2 separate regions of the Homo sapiens genome follow, and region 2 is linked to region 1. Evidence: fine-mapped expression QTL. Tissue or cell type: whole blood. Region 1 holds a variant in brackets; the other region holds the start of a gene. All regions are shown on one strand. Distances are between the middles of the regions.

Evidence for each region. PIP is the estimated chance that this variant, and not a neighbour inherited with it, causes the effect.
Region 2: it holds the start of GRN, and the variant in region 1 is fine-mapped to the expression of GRN in whole blood (TOPMed, PIP above 0.99).

The regions. Positions count from the first base shown.
Region 1 is chr17:44,480,735-44,485,994 of GRCh38, reverse strand. The region is part of intron 1 of GPATCH8 (G-patch domain containing 8); the gene reads left to right. Among named protein-coding and RNA genes, the nearest start is that of GPATCH8, 20 kb to the left of the region's middle. The variant C/T (reference allele first, on the strand shown) is at 2,033.
Region 2 is chr17:44,342,739-44,347,738 of GRCh38, reverse strand. It overlaps GRN (granulin precursor), which reads right to left and starts at 2,437. Exons shown (of 13, transcript NM_002087.4): 1 at 2,405-2,437. RefSeq lists enhancers at 2,165-2,314, 3,466-4,391.

The DNA of each region.
Region 1 (5,260 bases):
TGAGCCCAGGAAGTAGAAGCTGCAGTGAGCTGTGATTGCACCACTGCCCCGTAGCTTGGGTGACAGGGAGACCTTTAGTTATTCTAAATAAACACATAATATTCACTAGTGTACTAGAAAATGTTCTTATATAGGGCATATAGATGAAGAAAGAGTACCTGGACTTAAAGAACATGCTTTATGGTAGAGGAGATAAGTAAACAGGGAGTCACAGTACAAGTACCATAACGAAGGTATAAACATAAAGCTAAAGGAGCACAGAGAAGGAGTGTCAGACAAGACTTCAAAGTAAAAGTGAGTTAAGTGAGTTGGTCTTAGGGCTGGGGGCATAGGAAGAGTGTGGGGACACTCTCATTGAGGGAATGGTAGCCTGGCCAGATTTGCTTTTAAAAACTTTATTAGAGGCTGGGCGGGATGGCTCACAGCAGGAATCCCAGCACTTTGGGAGGCCAAGGTGGGAGGATCGTTTGAGCTCAGGAGACGGAGTCTGCAGTGAGTCGAGATTGTGCCACTGCATTCCAGCCTGAGTGACAGAGCGAGACCCTATCTCAAAAATAAACAGAAAATCAAACATTAGTAAAGGCCAGGCGCTGTGGCTCAAGCCTATAATCCTAGCACTTTTGGAGGCCGAAGCAGGGGGATCACCTGAGACCAGGGGTTTGAAACCATGCTGGGAACATGGCAAGACTCCAAGTCTACAAAAAAAAATTTTTAAATGAAAACATTAGACGGGTGTGGTGGCTTGCACCTGTAGTCCCAGCCACTTGGGGGGCTGAAGTGGGAGAATCACTTGAGCCCAGGAGGTGCGGTGAGCCAAGATTGTGTCACTGCACTCCAACATGGATGACAGAGTGAGACCTTGTCTCAGAAAATAAAAACAGGCTTGGCATGGTGGGCTCACACCTGTAATCCCAGCACTTGGGGAGGCTGAGGCGGGCGATCTCTTGAGCTCAGGAGTTCGAGACCATTCTGGGCTACATGATGGAACCCAGTCTCTAAAAAAAATACAAAAAAATGTAGCCAGGCATGGTGGCATGTGCCTGTGGTCTCAGCACTTGGGGAGCTGAGGTGGGAGGATCACTTGAGCCTGGGAGGTTGAGGCTTCAGTGAGCTGAGATTGAATCACAAACAAATACATAATAAAAGTTAGACAGAGGGTCCCACTATGCTGCAGGACACATCATAGCACTTATGATACATTGAAATATCAAATTAGGGCGAAATTTAACATGACAATTACAACATTAAGTTTTACTTTTTAAAAGTTTTTTGAAACTCACAGCCAAAAGAAGCCTAAAGTGACATGACAACAAAATGTAATGTGGTATCCTCTGTGGGATCCTAGAACAGAAAAAGACCATTAGAGGAAGTCTAAGATAATCTGAATATAGTATGGACTTTAGTTAATAATAATGTGTCAGAGTTGGCCTCCCAAAGCATTGGGATTACTACCTACCCACCTGGTGTGAACCACCCACCACACCTGGTTTGCCCGTGTTTTTTGTAGCCAACTTTTCAGCAGCAAAAGTGTGACTCTGGTGTCAAATATTGAGAAGCCAGGCAAGAAAATTAGGTGGTCTGTTACTTTAAGCTTTAAAAAGTTTCATATAACCTTAATGGATATTTTGATGTTATTTTGTGTTTACCTTTGAGCTTTTAAAATGAAAACTAAATGTATGTTTGAATCAACGCCATTTAAAATAAATTTCTGGGCTGCGCATGGTGGCTCACACCTGTAATCCCAGCACTTTGGGAGGCTGAGGCAGGCAAATTGCTTGAGGCCAGGAGTTCGAGACTAGCCTGGCCAACATGGCGAAACCCTGTTTCTGCTAAAAAATAAATAAATAAATAAATTGGTCTGGCATGGTGGCTCACACCTGTAATCCCAGCACTTTGGAAGTCCGAGGCGGGCGGATCACGAAGTCAGGAGATCAAGACCATCCTGGCTAACACAGTGAAACCCTGTCTCTACTACAAATACAGAAATTAGCTGGGTGTGGTGGCATTTGCCTATAGTCCTAGCTACTCGGGA[C/T]GCTGAAGCAGGAGAATCGCTTGAACCTGGGAGGTGGAGGTTGCAGTGAGCTGAGATCACGCCACTGTGCTCCAGCCTGGGCAACAGAATGAGACTCTGTCTCAAAACAACAACAACAACAACAACAACAACAACAAAAACAACCAAACAAAAATTAGCCGAGCCTGGTAGTGCATGCTTGTAATACCAGTTTCTTGGGAGGCCGAGGCACAAGAATTACTTGAACCCAGGGGGCAGAGGTTGCAGTGAGTTGAGATCGTGCCACAGCACTCCAGCCTGGGTGACACAGCAAGACTCTGTCTCAAAAAAATAAAAAATAAAGTAAATTTCTGATTAAATATTTTGAATTTTATTTTAAAATGCAGTAAGTATGAAATTCAAAAGAAAAAAATGCAGTTAAAAATAGCCTACCTCGGCCAGTCGCGGTGGCTCACGCCTGTAATCCCAACACTTTGGGAGGCCGAGGTGGGCAGATCACAAGGTCAGGAGTTCAAGACCAGCCTGGCCAATATGGTGAAACCCCATCTCTACTAAAAATACAAAAATTAGCCAGGTGTGGTGGTGGGTGCCTGTAGTCCCAGCTACTCAGGAGGCTGAGGCAGGAGAATGTCTTGAACCCGGGAGGCGGAGGTTGCAGTGAGCCGAGATGGTGCCACTGCACTCCAGCCTAGGTGACAGAGTGAGACTCCATCTCAAAAAAACAAAAAAAAGAAATGAGTGTCTAAGAGATATGAGAGGTAGGCTGTATATATATATATATATATATATATATATATATATATATATTTTTTTTTTTTTTTTTTTTTTTGAGACGGAGTCTCACTCTTTCGCCCAGGCAGAGTGCAGTGGTGCTGTCTCGGCTCACTGCAAGCTCCGCCTCCTGGGTTCACACCATTCTCCTGCCTCAGCCTCCTGAGTAGCTGGGACTACAGGCACCAGCCACCATGCCTGGCTAATTTTTTGTATTTTTAGTAGAGACGGGGTTGCACCGTGTTAGCCAGGATGGTCTCGATCTCCTGACCTCGTGATCCGCCTGCCTCGGCCTCCCAAAGTGCTGGGATTACAGGCGTGAGCCACCGCGCCCGGCCTAGACACCCATTTCTAAGAGTTAACTTCTACTACAAGCTTCTAATGTATTCTAGAGCTGCTCTGTACATGTTTTTTAGTTTAGTTTTGAAAATTAACATGCAGTAGTATTGACTTATTTGATATGGATTTCTATGAATTTATTTTTTGATAGAAATATATTTTTTTTAATTTTACTTTAAGTTCTGGGATACATGTGCAAAACATGCAGGTTTGTTGCATAGGTATACATGTACCATGGTGGTTTGCTGCACCTACGAACCCGTCATCTAGGTTTGGTTTGGTTTTTTTTTTTTTTTTTTTGAGATGGAGTCTGGCTCTGTCGCCCAGGCTGAAGTGCAGTGGTGTGATCTCGGCTCACTGCAGCCTCCGCCTCCTGCATTCAAGCGATTCTCCTGCCTCAACCTTCTGAGTAGCTGAGATTACAGGCGCCCGCCACCACACCCGGCTAATTTTTTTGTGTTTTTAGTAGAGACGGGGTTTCACCATGTTGGCCAGGCTGGTCTTGAACTCCTGACCTCAAGATCCACCTGTCTTGGCCTCCCAAAGTGCTGGTATTACAGGCATGACCCACTGCGCCCAGCCTCGTCTAGGTTTTAAGTCCCGTACGCATTAGGTATTTGTCGTAATGCTTTCCCTCCCCTTGCCCCCCACCCACTGACAGGCCCCAGTGTATAATGTTCCCCTCCCTGTGTCCATGTGTTCTCATTGTTCAGCTCCCACTTAAGAGTGAGAACATGGGGTTATTTATTTTTGAGACAAGAGTCTCACTCTGTCGCCCAGGCTGGAGTGCAGTGGCGACACCTTGGCTCACTGCAACCTCTGCCTTGTAGGTTCAAGCGATTCTCCTGCCTCAGCTTCCTGAGGACCTGGATATCAGGCGTGTACTACCACACCCGGCTAATTTTTCTATTTTTAGCAGAGATGGGGTTTCTCCATGTTGGCCAGTCAGGTCTCAAATTCCTGACCTCAAGTGATCTGCCTGCCTTGGTCTCCCAAAGTGCTGGGATTACAGGTGTAAGCCACCATGCCCAGCCTAGTTCTATGAATTTTAACACATTTATAGATTCTTATAACTGCCACTACAATCTGCCTATGGAACAGGATTTTAATTTAAGTATTCAAAAAATACATTTTTTAGAGGTGAAATACAGAAATATTTAGCCTGTTTTCACCATTTTTCAAAAAATTTAAGTACAATTAAGATACAGTGAAATTCGCCCATTTACATGTACAGTTCATCAGCACCATAAGACGGTGAAAAAAAAGTACAATTTGAGTATTGACAAAACGCATCATAGTGCAGCCACCACAACAACCAGTGTATAGCTTCTGACAATCACTGATCTTTTTCTTTTCTTTAGCTTTGTTTTTTCCAGAATGTCCTATATATGGAAGCCTTTTGAGTATGGCTTCTTTTCACTTAGCATAATTAATTTGAGATTCATCTCTGTTACTACTTGTATGAATAATTTGTTTCTTTTTAGTGCCAAGTAATATCTCATTGTATGGGGTATACCATAGTTTTTAAAGTTCATTTCTCAGTTGACATTTGGATAGTTTCTAGCGTACAAATAAAGTTGTTAAAAACATTCACAGACAGGTGTTTTAAGTTGAGTGTACTATTTTATGTTCCCATCAGTAATCTATGAAAGTTGCTCGTCTGAAATTTTATCAGAGGAGGGCTCACGCCTGTAATCCCAGCACTTCGGGAGGCTAAGATGGGCAGATTGAGCCCAAGAGTTCGAGACCAGTCTGGGCAATATGGCAAAACCCCATCTCTACCAACAATACAAAAATTAGCTTGGTGTAGTGGCGTGCACCTCTAGTCCCAGCTACTCGGGAGCCTGAAATGGGAAGGATTGCTTAAGCCCCAAGGAGGGTTGAGGCTGGAGTGAGCCATGATGGTGCCACTGCATTCCAGCCTGGACAACTGAGAGAGACTGTCTCTCCAAACAAATGAAGTGGTATTAGGTTGTTTTTTTTTGTTTTTGTTTTTGTTTTTGAGACTGGAGTCTCACTCTGTCACCCAGGTTGGAGTGCAGTGGCGTGATCTCGGCTTACTGCAACCTCTGCCGCCCGGGTTCAAGCGATTCTCCTGCCTCAGCCTCTTGAGTAGCTGGGATTACAGGCGCCTGTCAT
Region 2 (5,000 bases), 140 kb after region 1:
CTCAGCTGATCCACCCACCTCAGCCTCCCTAAGTGCTGGGATTACAGGCTTGAACCACCACACCCAGCCACACCTTTATTTTAAAGGAGGAAACTGAAGCTTAGAGATGTTAAGTACAGTCAGCCCTCCATATCCAACCAGGGATCAAAATATATTGGGCGCGGTGGCTAACGCCTGTAATCCCAGCACTTTGGGAGGCCCAGGTGGGCGGATCCCAAGGTCAGGAGTTCAAGACCAGCCTGACCAACGTGGTAAAACCCCATCTCTATTAAAAATACAAAAATTAGCCATGCGTGGTAGCGCACACCTGCAATCCCAGCTACTCAAGAGGCTGAGGCAGGAGAATCGCTTGAGCCCAGGAGGTGGAGGTTGCAGTGAGCAGAGATCACGCCAACATACTCCAGCCTGGGTGACAGAGTGAGACTGAGATTCTGTCTCAAAAAACAAAACAAAAAAACCCCTGAAAATGTTACATCGTTGCTGAGTTATACAATGTAGTTAGGCTTACGATGGGTGCATCTATACTGAACATCTACAGATAGTTCTTTCTTATTATTCCCTAAACAATTCAGGATCACAACTATTTACATGGCATTTCTTTTTCTTTTTCTCTTTTTTTTTTGAGATGGAGTCCTGCTCTGTCACCCAGGCTGTAGTACAGTGGCGCGATCTCAGCTTACTGCGAACTCCGCCTCCCAGGTTCAAGCAATTCTCCTGCCTCAGCCTCCCAAGTAGGTGGGATTATAGGTGTGCGCTACCACACCTGGCTAATTTTTGTATTTTTAGTAGAGATGGGGGTTTCACCATGTTGGTCAGGCTGGTCTCAAACTCCAGACCTCAGGTGATCCACCTGCCACGGCCTCCCAAAGTGGTGGGATTACAGGCATGAGCCACCACGCCCAGCCGACATGTCATTTCCATTGTATTAGGTATAAGTAATCTAGAAATGATTTAAAGTATGTATAGGTTATATGCAAATATTACACCATTTTATCTCAGGGGCTTGAGCACCCACAGATTTTGGGGTCCTGGAACCAGTTCCGTGAAGATACCAAGGGACACCTATAACACGTCACACATCAGGTCATGGTGACGTCAGGCTTTGATGGCCCCAGAGCGTATTGGACCTGGGTTCATATCACTAGTGGCACGATGGGCAGTGCCTGGGAATGGTGCAACAGGTACAACAGAAACAGGGTACAGGGACTGCCTGAAAATCGCACTTGGGTCCTAATCCTAGAATTGCCAACTGTGAGGGCCTGAGAAGTTGCTCTCTGTCTGTGCCTCAGTTACCCCACGAGTCTAGGTGTGGATACCACTGCGGGGGGAGGGGCAGGAAATCTCACCCACCCAGTCACTCACATCCTCTCTGCTCCACCTGGCTTTCCTCAAGTGCCCCTCCCCTAACTCAGCATCCCCAAGAGGCCACCTCCTGGACAGATAAGGATGAAGTTCACTGGTCCTGGACAGTGGACCCTCTCCTCAGCCCCACAGCTCCCAGGCAAAGCACCTGCAGCTGGCACCGCCTGCTTCCTGGGTGTTCTCAGCAGGCTGTCCGCTGCCATGGCTTGCTGGGAAGGGGAGTCTGTCTGCACAGGAGTGTTCGGCTCCCTGGTGAATTACCTGTGCATGTGGCCCCTCCTGTTTACCCTAAATTGAGGGAGTATAGTGTATGCTTCTACTGAATACAAGCACTCGCATACAGAAACAGGGATGAGGAGGCGAGTCGCAGTCTCTCATGCCACCCTACACCGCCAAAACAGCCAGAGGGGACAGCAGCCTCTTCAAGACCCTAGCTCCGTTATCTTCCACTAGGTGGCACCCCCCAACTCCGAGTGCCAAGGGGAGAGGAAATTCCCAAAAGGGGAGCCAACCTAGCTGCAAATGAGCAGGAAAAAGTGGCTGGGAGAGGCGGAAGCTAGCTCGTCCCACCCGCAACAAGAGGAAGTAAGGAGGAGCCAGACCAGGTTCAGTCACCACTCCCAAGTCCCTACTACCTTCGAGAAGCCAAGGTCTCAGGTCTCGTTCCCAGGCCCTCGGAGCTCCCAGCCCAGGGTCGCGCGCCCCTCCGGCTCCAGGCCGCCGCGGGAACCACCCACCACCACCAGGAGAGGGGAAGAAGCCAGCACCTACCGACAGGGGTGGAGCTGGGTCAAGAATGGTGTGGTCCCTGCTTTGGGGGAATGCTGGGGAGGTAGAAAGCCCCTTCTAACGGGGCGTCACTGCAATTACTGCTTCCTCTTTCCCATAAAACTCCCCCTAGTGTATCAGAACCCCCAAGGAGTTTCAGTAAGCGGTTCTTCTGTTGTCTCCGGCTGAGACTCCAGGGGAACCTCAAGCTCACATGGCCCTGGCGGGCCCCTGGGCAGGAGCAGGCGAGAGGTCTGCGCGGCCGCTCTCCTACCTGCGTCCGACTCCGCGGTCCTTGGGCAGCAGCAACCGGGTAGCGCTCAGACTACAGACCCCAGCGCGATGACCCGCCTACCTCAGTTTCCATTGGCCAGGGATCAGGGCTACCCGCTCCCATTGGCTACTTATCAATATAGAGGTGGGGCCAGCCTGGAATGCTGTGTTTCTTTTCTACTCAAATCACTCTCCTCCCTGCTTCCTCTCGCCCCACACCCCATTTCTAGGGATCATGTGATTGGAGAATCATGTGACGTCGGGACAGCCTCAGCAGGGCAGCTGGTGCTCGTCGCCTTCCTTAACCCATCCTGCAGGCGCCTGGGGGAGTTTGCTAGAGATGATAGCGCGTGTCTGGGGCATTGACAGTGCGAGGGAGTGTTATGAATTGGGAATATTTGTGCTCGCCTTTCTATCCTTTTGTTTGTTTGTTCTGAGACGGAGTCTCACTCTGTCGCCAGGCTGGAGTGCAGTGGCACGATCTCGGCTCACTGCAACCTCTGCCTCCCGGGTTCAAGCGATTCTCCTGCCTCAGCCTCCCGAGTAGCTGGGACTACAGGCGCGCACCACCACGCCCAGCTAATTTTTGTATTTTTAGTAGAGACGGGGTTTCACCATGTTGGCCAGGATGGTCTCGATTTCTTGACCTCGTGATCCGCCCACCTCGGCCTCCCAAAGTGCTAAGATTACAGGCATGAGCCACCGCGCCCGGACTTGTGTGTTTGTTTTAGAGACAGGGTCTCGCTCAGTCGCCCAAGCTGATCATAGCTCACTGCGGCCTGCAACTCCTGCTCCCAAAGCGATTCTCCTACCGCAGCCCCCCAAGGCGCTGGGATTACAAATGTGAGCTACTGAGCTGGCTCGCTCCTATCCTATCCTGCCCTGTCTTGTCCTGTCCTGTCCTGCCCTATTCTGCCCTATTCTCCAAACTCGGTTGACATGCTAGGCAGGCCCCAGAGTGAGTTGAAGGATGGTTTCCAGGACAAAGATAAACAGCCCCAAAGCCCTTTCCTCAAGGTGCTCAGCAGGACAGGGAGCAGGGATTGGTGGGAGACAGTCTCAGGCTGAATCTAATTTAAGATACAAGGTTGTGCGCCAGTTGCCAGGTGTAGGGAGAGGAAGTAGATTGTCTCCAGGTGGGGAAGAAGAGATTTCATTCCACCTTAGGAGCATCTCCTTGAGCTGAGTCTGGGAAGATTTTAACTGGCAGGTGGAGGAGGAGGTGTTGGGAAGAGCCCTGGGAAACCAGATGGGAAGGGCAGGCTTGGCAGGGATTGAATGCCATGTTCAATGCCAGTGGGCTTCAGGAGCTGCTGGGTGCCTGGCACGGGCTGGGCTGTGGTGGGGGCTGTCGAAAGAGAAGTGGCTTCCTAGTCTCCAGATCGGCCCTGCCTTCGAGGAATTGATATGGGAGGGTGAGGAGAGAAAATGTACCACAGAACAGATTAGCCAGTGACAAGAGTCAGCCTGCTTGGTGCCAAAGGGCCTGGGCCAGGCAGAGATGGATGATGGGAGATGGGCCAGGAGAGAGGAGAGGCCCAGGGAAAGCCTGATACTGGGCCGTGGAGGAACGGCAGTGTCTGCACAGGGGATGGAGACTGCTGCAGCCTGAGCAAGGAACTGGAGCTGAGGATGAGGCAGGGGCAGGGGGATGGCTAACCAAGCTCGAGGCAGCAGAAGTCGGAGGAGGGAAAGGGTGCCAACCGAGCTGTGGAGTCGTGTGGCAGGGGTTCTAAGCCTGGAGCTAGAGCAGACCCAGACAGCGGATAAGACACCTGGCCTGCTGAGGACCTAGTACTAGTCTGTGCCCTGGTGACACATTTGTGCTTATTTTCCTTCCTGTGTATCTTGAGACTAGGGAGTATAGTTTATGCTTCTATTGAAACACACACACACATGAAACTTTCATGAAATGTTAGGTGAATCGATCAATAACCTACTAATTACAACCACCCAGAACCAGAAAAAAATACAGGTAGAAGAAAAAAAACCTAAACAGACTGAAACAAATATCACAAAGTCTAATCGTCAAAGCCGTGATTCTTGAGCAGCGGCAATTTTGCCGGCCAGGGACATTTAGGAGTGTCTGGAGACAATCTGGGTTGTCACAACTCAGGGTGGAGGGACACTGGCATCTGGTAGGTAAGGGCCAGCAATCCCACTAAACATCACACGACACACAGAACAATCCCCCACAACAAAGAAGTATCCTGCCCAAAAGGTCAATAGTGCTGAGACTCAACAACCTACTTCACAAATGTTTCTCTCTCTCTCTCTCGCTCTTTTTTTTTTTTTTTTTAACATCAGAAGGGTAAGGTGCCACGATAACGAGGTCTGTAATTCCCTACTCAGGAGGCCGAGGCAGGAGAATCGCTTGAACCCGGGATGCAGAGGTTGCAGTAAACCGAGATCGTGCCACTGCATTCCAGCCTGGACAACAGAGCGAGACTCCATCCACCCCCGCCAACACAAAAAAATTAAAGTGTACAACTCAATGGTTTTTAGTGTCTTAAGAGAGTTATGCAGCATCATTACAATCAGTTTAAGACCATTTTTATCACCACAGAAGGCAGCCTTATGTCCTTTAGCAGTCACCC